Regions from separate parts of the Homo sapiens genome. Here regions 2 and 3 are each linked to region 1. The links come from fine-mapping of genetic effects on gene expression. A gene starts in region 1. Each other region holds a variant in brackets. All regions are shown on one strand. Distances are between the middles of the regions.

What was found. PIP is the estimated chance that this variant, and not a neighbour inherited with it, causes the effect.
Region 2: its variant is fine-mapped to the expression of ZC3H7B in prefrontal cortex (GTEx, PIP above 0.99).
Region 3: its variant is fine-mapped to the expression of ZC3H7B in whole blood (TOPMed, PIP 0.98).

The regions. Positions count from the first base shown.
Region 1 is chr22:41,299,342-41,303,444 of GRCh38, reverse strand. It overlaps ZC3H7B (zinc finger CCCH-type containing 7B), which reads right to left and starts at 1,920. Exons shown (of 23, transcript NM_017590.6): 1 at 1,673-1,920. It also overlaps a transcript of RANGAP1 not described here. RefSeq lists silencers at 1,544-1,613, 1,894-2,233 and an enhancer at 1,311-1,812.
Region 2 is chr22:41,356,023-41,360,125 of GRCh38, reverse strand. It overlaps ZC3H7B (zinc finger CCCH-type containing 7B), which reads right to left. Exons shown (of 23, transcript NM_017590.6): 20 at 4,064-4,103; 21 at 3,650-3,783; 22 at 3,318-3,481; 23 at 1-2,949. The coding sequence ends at 2,697. Among named protein-coding and RNA genes, the nearest start is that of TEF, 24 kb to the left of the region's middle. RefSeq lists an enhancer at 1-130. The variant C/T (reference allele first, on the strand shown) is at 2,527.
Region 3 is chr22:41,335,707-41,339,809 of GRCh38, reverse strand. ZC3H7B (zinc finger CCCH-type containing 7B) reads right to left here. Exons shown (of 23, transcript NM_017590.6): 8 at 1,455-1,497; 9 at 619-809. Among named protein-coding and RNA genes, the nearest start is that of ZC3H7B, 36 kb to the right of the region's middle. The variant T/G (reference allele first, on the strand shown) is at 2,397.

The DNA of each region.
Region 1 (4,103 bases):
CCTACTAAGACTCGAGAGATCAGCACATCCCACCAAGCTTCTAAGCCCCACAATAATCTACCAAAACCCCCATTCCTGTCTAACCTATACAAAAGCCAGCAGCTAAGAACACACAGCATCTACAGAACAGAAACTTTATCCCAGCTCAGGGACAACAAAGTCTCTCTCCCATCCTCAGATCTCATCCCTCCTGGACAGGTTCTTTCTTCCCACCTTAAGTCTCCCCACTTCTCAAACATGCTCCATCCAACTGTTGACCAGGTGTCATTTCCACCTTGCAGTCCAACTTCTGTGGGAGGTGGACACGGGGAAAGAAGACCACCACGGAGGGGATGGCTGTATGTGTGTAGAGGAAGTATTGGTAGTAGAACTAAAGATTCTGCCAGCATTTTGTGTCCAACACAGTTGCTACATGTACTATAATTATCTCATTTGTGTGAAAATTCAAGGATCTGCATTCTGCTATTTTCATCAGGCTGAACTGCAGATGCTGAGGAATATGGCAAGAAGTTGGGGTTCAAAGTCTGATGCCAAAGCTAGCAACCCGAGAAATAAAACCGCTGATCACCAGCTCCCCACTCAGGCCCAGCCCCCTTTTAGAGCCCCCAGACTCCCCACGCAGGGCCCTAGCCCCCTAGTCTTCCCCGTCAATGCCCTGTTGGCAATACAGCCATCAGGTTCTATCAGAGTGAGCTGTTTTTATATGATTATTTTCCCCCCTGGGAAGACGGCTTTGTCTGTGAAAGTCCCCCCAACCAGGCGCCTTATAAACGCCTAAAACAGACAGAGTTGAGGAGAAAGGAGGGGAAAGGAGGAGGGAGCAAACCCGGAGGGGGGCCCTGAGGTTCGCAGCGGGCAGGATGGGGGTATGAGGCCGGAGTCGGCGGCTCCCAGGCCCCCAGCCCCGTCAGGGCGCCCCCGTCCCCAGGCGCCAGAGCCGGGGTCCGCAGCCCCCTAGCACTCCCTGGACGGCCGCGGGCCTCCCACAGGCCTCGAAGTCCAGAGACTGATCCTGCGACCGGAAACGCCCCCCTGCCCAGCAGGCCCAGACCGCGCCCCCCTTTCCTGCCGCCCCCTTCCCGCGGGCCCGGCTGCAGGCCCCGGATCCCCGGGCTCGCGTGGCCGCCGCAGCCGAAAGGGGCGGCCCGTCGGGCGGCCCCGCTCCCCGGCCCTCGCCGCGGCCCCTCCAACTCCGGGTGCTGCGGGGCCAAGGACAACACAAAAGGAAGGGGGGCCCTGCCAGCGACGCCCCTGCCAGCCCCCGAGACCCCCTGCGCGGGGTCGGCAAAGCATCTGGACACCCCAGAAGCTCCGGACGCCGAAGAGAGAGGCCCCACGAAAATTTCAAGACACCTCCTGGGGGCTGCAGGGGCGGCCAAGTCTCCCCAGCGCCAGGTGCCCCCGGCCACACGGTAACTTTTAAACTTTGGGGCAGGGCACGGGGACCGGGATCCCCAAAAAGGAGCAAATGGGGTTTTAGAGACGATTTATTTTTTGCAAAATCCCACTTTCCAGGTGGCCCGGCGCGCGGCCCCGGCCTGGAAAGGGCTCTCTTCGCCTCTTCCCCAGCCCTGCCCGGCCCGGGCGTCCCCGAACCCTCGCGCGCGGGCGGCTCCGGACGCAGTGTCCCCGGCCTCTGCCCCGCGGGGCTCGGGCCGCGCCAAGCACTCACCTCCGCCGGGCTGCGCTCCCCGCGGGCCTGCGCCGAGCCCGATAAATGGTATGCTATGACTAGAGGTATGATTACGTTATTATTATTAGTAATAATAAGAGTAAATGCTATTTAATTACGGGCGGCCGCATCCTGCTCCCGGCGCCGCCGCCCCGGCAGCTCCGTCCATGTGGCTCTGGAGCGCTTTACTTTCATTTCCAGCCCCTCGGCTGGCCGCTCGCGGCAGCACCCGCTGGAGGCACTGTCTCCCTGCAGCTCTTCCTCCTCGGGTCCTAGAGAGCTCGGCTCCCGTCGCCTCGCCGCGCCCGGGGTGGGCGGCGCGGGCTGCGCACCTGGGGAGAAGGGCGGGGGGCGTGGGGGCGAGTCGGGGAAGCCCCATTCCCCGTCGAAAGCTCATGCCTGGAATTCACCTTTATTTTCTTTAAAAGTGTCCTGCCTTTTAGGGGGGTTTCTTTTGGCAGTTCTGCATTTCTGGGCTGATGCTGCTCAAACCCAGCGCCTCCGCCCTTCCCCATCTGTGTCAAAAGTCCCCCCGCCCCCCTTCTCCGGCTTCCAGGTGCTTTCATGGAAGGCTGCCCAAAACCCTGGTTGCGTTGTGCCCTTCTCATAGATGGGAACCGGAGACACATAGAAGAATCAGGACCTCACTTGGCTGGAGTTTTATGTATAGGATGTTAAAAAAAATATTGAATGACACTTGTTAAAGACTACAAGGCCGACTTTATTGGCATCATGATGGGTGTAGGGACCACTGCAGTGGGTTTTGCGGTCAGGGAGAGTATTTGGGCTCAATTCAGAAATCAGCATGGGCAACTGGGAATTTATGAGGAAGGAGAAAGGATCCACTGATTGAGCGCCAGTGCATAGGAAACTGCATCAGAGATGAGAGGATTCTCGCTTAAACCCATCTAACAAGATTCTTGCTGAAGGCAGGGCAAGGTGATCAGACATCACCTGGGGAATGGTGGAAAATGAGGAACCTGATTAGATATTGACAATCAGGGCTGGGTGCAGTGGCTCACGCCTGTAATCTCAGCACTTTGGGAGGCCAAGACGGGTGGATCACCTGAGGTCAGGAGTTCAAGACCAGACTAGCCAACGTGGTGAAACCCCATCTCTACAAAAATACAAAAATTAGCCAGGCGTGGTGGTGGGTGCCTGTAATCCCAGCTACTCAGGAGGCTGAGGCAGGAGAATCACTTGAACCCCAGAGGTGGAGGTTGCAGTGAGCCAAGATCATGCCATTGCACTCCAGCCTGGGCAACAAGAGCAAAACTGTCTCCAGAAATATATGTGTGTGTGTGTGTGTGTGTGTGTGTGTGTGTGTGTGTGTGTGTGTGTGTGAGTTCCCAATACCCCCTAGGCAATTTACAATGAAACACCCTTGACAACTTATCACATTTACCACCATGGTTATTATCACTCTCATTTCATCGATGAGGATGCTGAGGCCAGTTGGATTGCTGCATTTTGCCTCAAGTGAACTAGATGGCAAATGGTCTGGTGATTCCACCACCCCAGGTTGCTGGTGAAATAATGAACACATATTCTTGAAGAGGACTGTCCATCATTCAAGGGGGATTCAGCAGGACACCAGCCTCTTATCTCTTCAAGTTGGTACCAACTTGTTCAATTGTTTGGGCTGCCTAAGATGGTAAAGGGGTCTTTATTACAAGACCCCAACCAGAGGTGAGGATGCTTTGGAGAAAAGGGCCAGGAGGAGGCCGGGCGCGGTAGCTCACGCCTATAATCCCAGCACTTTGGGAGGTTGAGGCGGGCGGATCATGAGGTCAGGAGATCGAGACCATCCTGGCTAACACGGTGAAACCCCATCTCTACTAAAAATACAAAAAATAAGCTGGGCGTGGTGTCGGGAGCCTGTAGTCCCAGCTACACAGGAGGCTGAGACAGGAGAATGGCGTGAATCCGGGAGGCGTAGCTTGCAGTGAGCCGGGATCATGCCACTGCACTCCAGCCTGGGCGACAGAGTGAGACTCTGTCTCAAAAAAAGAAAGAAAAAGAAAAGGGCCAGGAGGCTGGCATCGGTAGGCTTTCTGGGAAGCCCCATGTTGTCAGTCCCATGTTGTCACAGTGTGCTCTATGTCCCCATGTTAAAGCTGAAATAGCAGTAACAGCCACCGCTTCTTTACTATGAGCCAAACACTTTGCATATGTTGATTCTTTTACCCTCTCAAAAACCCTGTAGCTCGGCACGGTGGCTCACATCTGAAATCCTAGCACTTTGGGACGCCAAGGTAGGTGGATCACCTAAGGTTAGGAGTTCGAGACCAGCACGGCTAACGTAGTGAAACCCTGTCTCTACAAAAAAATACAAAAATTAGGCCGGGCGCGGTGGCTCAGGCCTGTAATCCTAGCACTTTGGGAGGCCGAGGCGGGTGGATCACAAGGTCAGGAGATCGAGACCATCCCA
Region 2 (4,103 bases), 57 kb before region 1:
CTAGAACAAAGGCTAAGGGAAGCAAGTTTCTTTCATTTTATTTTAAGAAGGACAAAAATTGTTATTAAAACATCTACATTATTATCAAGATACTAGACCTTATGAATATTTAATATTAAAGTGTGGTATTCTTAAATTTTTAATACACAGACATTTTAAAGGACCATTAAATTGATTACTGCCCAGCTGAGAAATGCAGCATCCCTCCCCACCCACCCCGCCCCCATGCTTGCCATGCCATCTTGTCCCTGCCTGCCGGGGGGAACACAGGTCCCAGATTCAGTCCTCTGAGCCTCCCAGCCTGGGGCCCTAGAAGGCTCACAACTGAAATAGTTACCCTCATCATTAAAAGGGTCTTCCTGTCCCTCCTCCCCATCACACTCTGCCTCCCACTCTCTCTTCCTTACCCTGTGGGGGCTCCAGCTCTGGCCAGGCCAGGAAGCCCCAGATCCCAAGGGTCCCTGGACAGATCACAGGCTGAAGATGAAAACTCTGGACTTGAATCCTGTTCTTTTCAGCGGGGAGACAAATACAAATCACCTTCTTTCCCTGAGCACTCCCACTCTCTCCGCACTCGATGGGGGTGGTCTGGGAAGCTAGCAGAGTTGGGCCTGGGGAGGGTGGCTCCTGTCCCTGGCTGCCCGAATCACCTCTGAGCCATGGCTCCAGTCCCTGTCACCTTGCAAATAGTCCAGTGGCCCCTGAAACCCTCCTAATCACACAAGGATGGCTGCATTTTCTGGCCAAATTCTTTATCTTTAGCCCTCATAAAAGTGATTCCTTGGATACCACACACATATATAATATTATATAGAGCGATATATTTAATACCTGTGTATATATGCATCACGGGGGCGACATATATACACACTAGAAACAAGGCTGGTGACAACGGACTGCAACACCACGGATCAGGGAAAACGAGTATCATCGACATCACGGCCACACATGGCCACAGCCCCCACCTTGGGTGTGGTCTCCCCTCCCCTACAGCCACACCACCAGCACCCAAACTCTGCAGTGCTGGCCTGCTGCGGCCAGGGGGTGGGGCAGGGAAGAGGAAAGGGCGCATGCCACGATTATCAGGAAAGGTTGGGCAGTGGCGGCGGGAGGAACAGCGTCCCCTCCAGCCCTGGGCAGCCCATCACTGTGTCAGCGCGCGCTGGCAATCCTTGCTTGAGAAGAATGGGGTGGTCCCTTCTCTCCTTCTCACCCCCCTACAGCCTAATCCCTGGTTCCTTCCGGGGCTGCCCCACTCCTGTGCCAATGATGTGGGGCATTCTGGAATGTCTGGGGAACCAGGGCACGGTGGATCTGCCCTGGTTGATGGAAGGTAGGGTGGAGAGGAGGGGGGTGCACACAGACATGTCAGACGAGAGGGACGAGCGAGGCCTTGGTGAGTGGGGGCAGGGGCTGGGGGTCCACTGAAGTCCCAGACAGCTGGGAGGGCCAGGGATTAGGGAGGGGCTAGGACAGACGGTTATAACTGTATGTCTGGGTCTAGAGGAGAGGACATACTGGGTCCCCAAGAAAGAGGGGCCGTGTCCCATCCTGGAGTGGCCCATGGTGCCCGGGGTCAAGCCTCCCTTTTCTCCGCATTCCCCCAGACCCTCACCCTTCCCACCTCCCACACCTCACACAGATCCTGAGCTCATGGTGTCCTGCCCTCTGCCACCTTTCCCAGAGCGCATGTCAGGAGGTGACCTCTGCTGCTGCACCCAAAGGGACCATCCTTGGGAGGGGGCGGTCCCTTCATGGGGTGCTCACATGGCCAGCCCTCCTCTGGGCCTCCCCTCCCCAGCCCCCAGGCAGCGCTGCCTGGGACCCCAGCTGCACACTGATTCAGAGACCATCGCATCCCTGCTGAGGGGACCGTGGGCTCAGCCAATAATTGGCCCTGAGTCTTTTCAGCCCTGTTTTCATCCCAGCTCTGCCTTGTGCTGGGACCGTGGGTGGACCACTCCTCCCTTCTAGGCCTCAGTTTTCCTCTCTGCAAAATGGGGTTTGGGCTGGATCATCTCTGAAGGCTCTGAGGACCTACAGTCTATTTTCACTGGCCCACGAGGGAGCAGGGTTCAGGTGGTGGCATCAGAGAAAGGGCTGGGACTCCTTAAGCTCCAAAGATCATCTAGCCCACCTCCTCCCAGCCTTCCGGAGGGAAAGCTGAGGCCCCAGAGGGTAAGTGGCCAGTACAGTGTTCCCAGCTCCAACCTGGGGCTACATTTTAAAGCTAATGGGGCCTCTGCCCTCTGTTGTGTCCTGATTTGCCCCCAGGGGGAGGGGGTGGGAGGAGGACGGGCCAGGGAGAGAAGGACCCTCCTGCTGGAGATTCAAGTGGGGACCCCAGGCTCCCCAGCCCTGAGCTTTGGGCCCCCATTAGGAGCAGACAGAAGTTAAAGCTGGAGGCTGAAGCTGGAGGGGTCAGCCAGGCCCCTCCCTCCTCAACCAGGAGAGCCGTGGGGGTGGGGGAAGGGCAGCCCAGGTTTCAGCGGGGCCTCCGGGGGCTGCAGCACGTGCGCCTGGGTA[C/T]GCACACCGGGGCGGTGGTGGGGAGAAGATGGACAGGGCCTCAGGGGGCTGGGGGCTGCCTGATGAGGGCGGCCCCCCACCCCCCTGGCCTGCCCTGACCCTTCTATCAGGCCTTCTGGCCCCACCCCACCCCCTGACCCCAGGACTTCACCCACGGCCAACACCTGGCCCTACTCCCCAGTGGTGGCGGTGGCAGCAGCAGCAGGGGCTTCTGGGGTGGCACCGGCAAGGTCCCCGTCCTCTTGCAGCAGGAAGTTGTATTTGCCAAAGTCGTCGTCCCGTGGGCACAGCAGCATGTCCTTGCGAGCCTTGGCCAACTTCTGCTTCAGCACCTCGCGCCGGTCCAGCCACTCGTTGAGCTCCTCCTGTCCATGGGCGCAGCGGCACTTGTCCCCATCTGGGCAGGCTTTGCCCTTCTGGAGCCTGTGGGTGGCAGGAGGCTCACTGCCCGAGCTCTGTGCCCTTCCCACCCCAGGCTGTCCATCTGGGGCCGGCCGCTTGACCTCCCCGAAGACAAGCCTCTCCCTGGGCAGCTGGGTCCCAGCTCAGGGAAAACCTGGGTGTCCTGACCCTCTCTGGGATCTGCCCCACAGCTGCAAATTAAAGGTCTAGATAGGTCTGAGCCCAGCCCTCCCATCCACCCTTCCCCACCACCCCCATGGCTGCAGTCACAGCCAAGCCTCACCACTCCCTGCACACCACCTCCAGGCCAAGAGGAGCCAGAGCTGGCCACGGACTCCATCTCCTCGGGCCACCCCATGTCCCGCCAGGCCCTGCCCTCCCAGGAGCACCTGTCGCAGAGCCGGAACTCGCCCATGGGGAAGCGGAAGGCCCAGCCGCTGGCGTCACTGTCGGACGTGAAGACCTTCTCCTTGTGCTTCTCGGACTGGATGTGCTGCTGCCACTGCTTCTTGCTGTTGCTGTTCTTGCCGCAGAGCCAGCAGTGGTAGCCCATCTGGGAGCACAGCCATCATGGGTGCCTGCTCCCCCACACCTCTGCCCGGACCACCCACCTCGGAGAGGCTGAGCGCTGGCCGGCTGGGCCCTCCAGGCTGCCCCTCCCAGGTGAGGCTCAGACCACAGCCCCGACCGCAGCCCCGAGCATGCAGGGCGGAGGCGTTACCATGATGTCCGCGTAGTCCGTGGGCATCTGGATCTGCTTCTCCCCTTCCCGAGAACTGATGGGGGTCCCTTCTCCAGGCTTTCCTGGGTTGTGTTTTTTCAGCCACATGTCATAGGTCTGCTGCATGTCCAGGACTGGGCAGGGGACAGGGACAGGGCACCTGCTGAGGGGCTTCTCCATCCATTCTGCCCCATGGTCCCCACTTGATTTGGGAGCCGTGGGCGTCCCAAGTCCTGCTGATAGGCCGCTCAGCCTCAGGGCCTGGCCTCAGAGAGGGCCCGGCATGGGGCAGGTGGAGAAGGGCCCAGGTAGCAAAGGGGTGCAGTGGACGCTCTTGGGCCCGCTGGTGAATTGAGACATTCAGCACTGAAGAGACACCGGGGGAGGGCCCGCCCGCCCCGTCTGCCCACTCACTCTTGTTCTCCTTCATGAAGGTCCACATGTCCCTCTCCTC
Region 3 (4,103 bases), 36 kb before region 1:
GGCAGGGACAGAGGGAGGGGTCAGAGGAAAACAGGACTGCCCAGGCCTGGGCAGCATCAGGACTTGGGGAAGCAAGGAGACCTGCACCCTGTCGCCTGGCTTCATCCTGTCCCATGTGGGAGCAGGGCTCACTATGGTCCCTTCTGGCCAGACATTGTGCAGCTTCATTTCTTTTTTTTTTTTTGAGACGGAGTCTTGCTCCACTGCCCAGGCTGGAGTGCAGTGGTGTGATCTCGGCTCACTGCAACCTCCGCCTCCCGGGTTCAAGCGATTCTCCGGCCTCAGCCTCCTGAGGAGCTGAGACCACAGGCATGTGCCACCATGCCCGGCTAATTTTTGTATTTTTAGTAGAGAGGGGGTTTCACCACGTTGGCCAGGCTGGTCTCGAATTCCTGACCTCAAGTAATCCGCTGCCTTGGCCTCCCAAAGTATTGGGATTACAGGCGTGAGCCACCGTGCCCAGTGTGCAGCTTCATTTCTGTACCAAACAAGTCCCTACTGAGGCCTCCTCCTGAGACACATGACATGAGCATTGGGGCCTTCCCTCCACCCCTGGGACAATGGGGACACAGCGGGGAGAGGGGATCAGGGGAGCACAAGGAGGGTGGTGTGGCTCACCAGCGAGTCCAGGAGGGTGTCCAGCTCTGGGCCAAAGACATCCCCGTCTGAGAAGTCATCCAGGCTGTCGGTGCTGGGGAGGGTCCTGCTGCTGTCCAGGGGGGCCAGCAGGTCCAGAACGTGAGGGAACAGGGGCATCGTGGGCGTGGAGGGGAGAAGGGCTGGGGAGCCTCGAGGGTCCACGTAGCAGTCTGCGGATGGGGTGGGCAAGAGCCGAAGGGGAGCACTGCTTGGTGAGGGTGGAGGAGGCGTCCCGGGCCCCGTGATGCTCATCCAACACTTTCCCTTCTTCTTTCAGCTCTTGCCAGGAGCCCTGCCTTCCCCATCGGCTGATCCCACTGGCAGATGCTCAGGGGGTGGTCAAGGAAGGCCACAGCCCCAGAGCAGGGAGGGGCCCTCAGTCCTATGATGTCAATCCTTGGCCCAGGCTCAATGCCTAAATGTCCACCACTGCTGCCTCCTTCTTCTGGGGTAAGCAATGCCCTCTCCAGGGGACACTCTTAAAAGGCAACCTTTTCTGGAAGCCAATGAGGAAGAGGAGGGGAAAGGGCTTTGGAAGAGGTGGGGGTGTGCAGGCAGCCAGGAGTGAAGGCCATGGGACTGTTGCACCTAGCTAAGAGGCAGCACCCCTCTCTGCCAGACTAGAGATGCCCTCCCCTCCTTGAGTGGGTCTGTAGCTCTCAACCCACTGTTTTCTCCCATGCCTCAGGGAGTACCAGGGTGGGGAACCCCTCGGAGGCCCTCCCATCTACAGGGCTGGGATGGGGAGGGGGCTCGACTCCCCTGACCTCTCGGGGCCCCAATTTCCACTTGTTCCCTCGTATCGGGGACATTACCTGTTTCGATGTCATCTATGGACCCCAATCCATTAGAAGTTCCCTGTGGGGAGAGGGCCACAGTGGCGCTGTGGCTGGGAAGGCCCCGATCCCAGCACCCAGCACCAGCCCCTCCCCACGTGACTATGCTGTTGACCCAGCACCGAGGAGCACTTAGAGTGCCAGGGGAGATTAAAGCCCTCACATGCGGCCAGGCGTGGTGGCTTATGCCTATAATCCCAGCACTTGGGGAGGCTGAGGTGGGTGGATCACCTGAGGTCAGAAATTCAAGACCAGCATGGCCAACATGGTGAAACCTCATCTCTACTAAAAATACAAAAATTAGTCGGGCATGGTGGCAGGAGCCTGTAACCCCAGCTACTTGGGAGGCTGAGGCAGGAGAATGGTTTGAACCCAGGAGGTGGATGTTGCAGTGAGCCGAGATCATGCCACTATACTCCAGCCTGGGCAACAGAGCGAGACTCTACCTCAAAAAAAAAAAAAAAAAGCCCTCACACGTGCTGGGTCCTCACCCCTGTGGTGCCCAGCAAGGGGCTGGATGGGCCAGCAGGTGGGGGCATGGGCTCAGTGGATCCCCACAGCTGTCCCTCTAGGGAGGGGTGGTTGAGGGCAGGGAGAGAACCTCTGAGTCTTGGTTCCACCCACCACAGGGCAGGGTCCTCACCCCGGTGAAGGTGGCAAGGGTCTTAGCAAGCCTCCCCCCACAGCACCACAGATGGCCTGCAGTTCAAAGACAAAAGTGCCCCCTCCCTGAGTCCCCAGGCTCTCCTCTCCCACGGTAGCCCCAGGCCCCCCAGGAAGCAGAGAAGGGCATAAACCCAGGTGGGATCCCACTGCCTTCCTGCTGGAGGAAAGCTGGGCCTGAGCAGGCTGTACAACCTGGGCAAAGTTCCCCATCCACTCTGGGCCTGCTTCACTCACCGCTGGGGAAGGCTATCAGGA[T/G]GAAATGACTTGCTATGTGTGAAGTGCTTAGAACGGGGCCTGGCACACAGGAAGTGCTTTGTGTTTTGGGTTTGTTTTTTTTTTTTGAGACAGAGTCTCACTCTGTTCCCTAAGCTGGAGTGCAGTGGCATGATCTTGGCTCACTGCAACCTCTACCTCCCGGGTTCAAGCAATTCTCCTGCCTCAGCCTCCCGAGTAGCTGGAATTACAGGCACCCGTCACCACGCCTGACTAACTTTTTTGTATTTTTATTTTGTATTTTTATTTATTCTTTTTTGAGATGGAGATTTGCTCTTGTTGCCCAGGCTGGAGTGCAATGGTGCGATCTTGGCTTACCGAAACCTCTGCCTCCCAGGTTCAAGCGATTCTCCTGCCTCAGCCTCCCAAGTAGCTGGGATTACAGGCATGCGCCACCATGCCTGGCTAATTTTTGTATTTTTAGTAGAGATGGGGTTTCTCCATGTTGGTCAGGCTGGTCTTGAATTCCGGACCTTAGGTGATCCACCTCCCTCAACCGCCCAAAGTGCTGGGATTACAGGCCTGAGCCACCACACCCAACTTTTTTTTTTTGAGATGGAGTCTCGTTTGGTCACCCAGGCTGCAGTGCAATGGTGTGATCTCAGCTCACTACAACCTCCGACTCCCACATTCAAGTGATTCTCTAATCTCGGCCTCCTGAGTAGCTGGGATTACAGAAGCATGCCACCATGCCCAGCTAATTTTTGAATATATATATATATTTTTTTTCTTTGAGATGGAGTCTCACTCTGTAGCCCAGGCTGGAGTGCAGTGGCACGATCTCAGCTCACTGTAAGCTCCGCCTCCTGGGTTCATGCCATTCTCCTGCCTCAGCCTCCAGACTAGCTGGGACTACAGGCACCCGCCACCACGCCTGGCTAATTTTTTGTATTTTTAGTAGAGATGGGGTTTCACCGTGTTAGCCAGGATGGTCTCGATATCCTGACCTCGTGATCCACCCGCCTCGGCCTCCCAGAGTGCTGGGATTATAGGTGTGAGCCACCGCGCCCAGCTAATTTTTGAATTTTTTAGTAGAGATGGGGTTTCACCATGTTAGCCAGGTTGATCTCAAACTCCTGACTTCAAATGATCCACCCGCCTTGGCCTCCCAATGTGCTGGGATTACTGGCGTGAGCCACCGTGCCCGGCCTGTGTTGATTAGATGCACAGTTTCTGGAAGTTGGGCTGGGAGAGCTGCTGTTTCGTTCAACAGTTCCCACACTCCAACCTCCAGGCTGTGGTGCATCCTTCCCTGTCCTGAACACCCTCCCCTTTTTCTCTGAGTCCTTCACAGTCCAGCTCAAGTCCTGCTTCCCTGGTGAGGCCCTGGGTGGCCCCACCCTTTCTGTGTCCCCACGGAGAGCCGGATGGAGGACCAGACTCCACCACTAGCCTTCCTTTCCCAGGACCAGCAGCCACAGGACCAGCAGCTAGACTCATCCAGCATCCTGCCTCACGCCAGCCCAGGCCAGCATCTCACACCCACTGTGGGGTTTAGCCCTCGGTCCAGGCGCCCTGCGAGGTATCATCCCACGGCATGGAAATGTCAGCCCAGAAAGCTGCTATGCACAGATCAGAGCAGGGCTGTCTGACCCAAGAGCCTGTCCTGACTCTGTCCCCTGGAACTGTACACTCCCCCATCCATACCTGCACCAACACCCTGCACCTCCTTCCCACACCTGAGCCTGC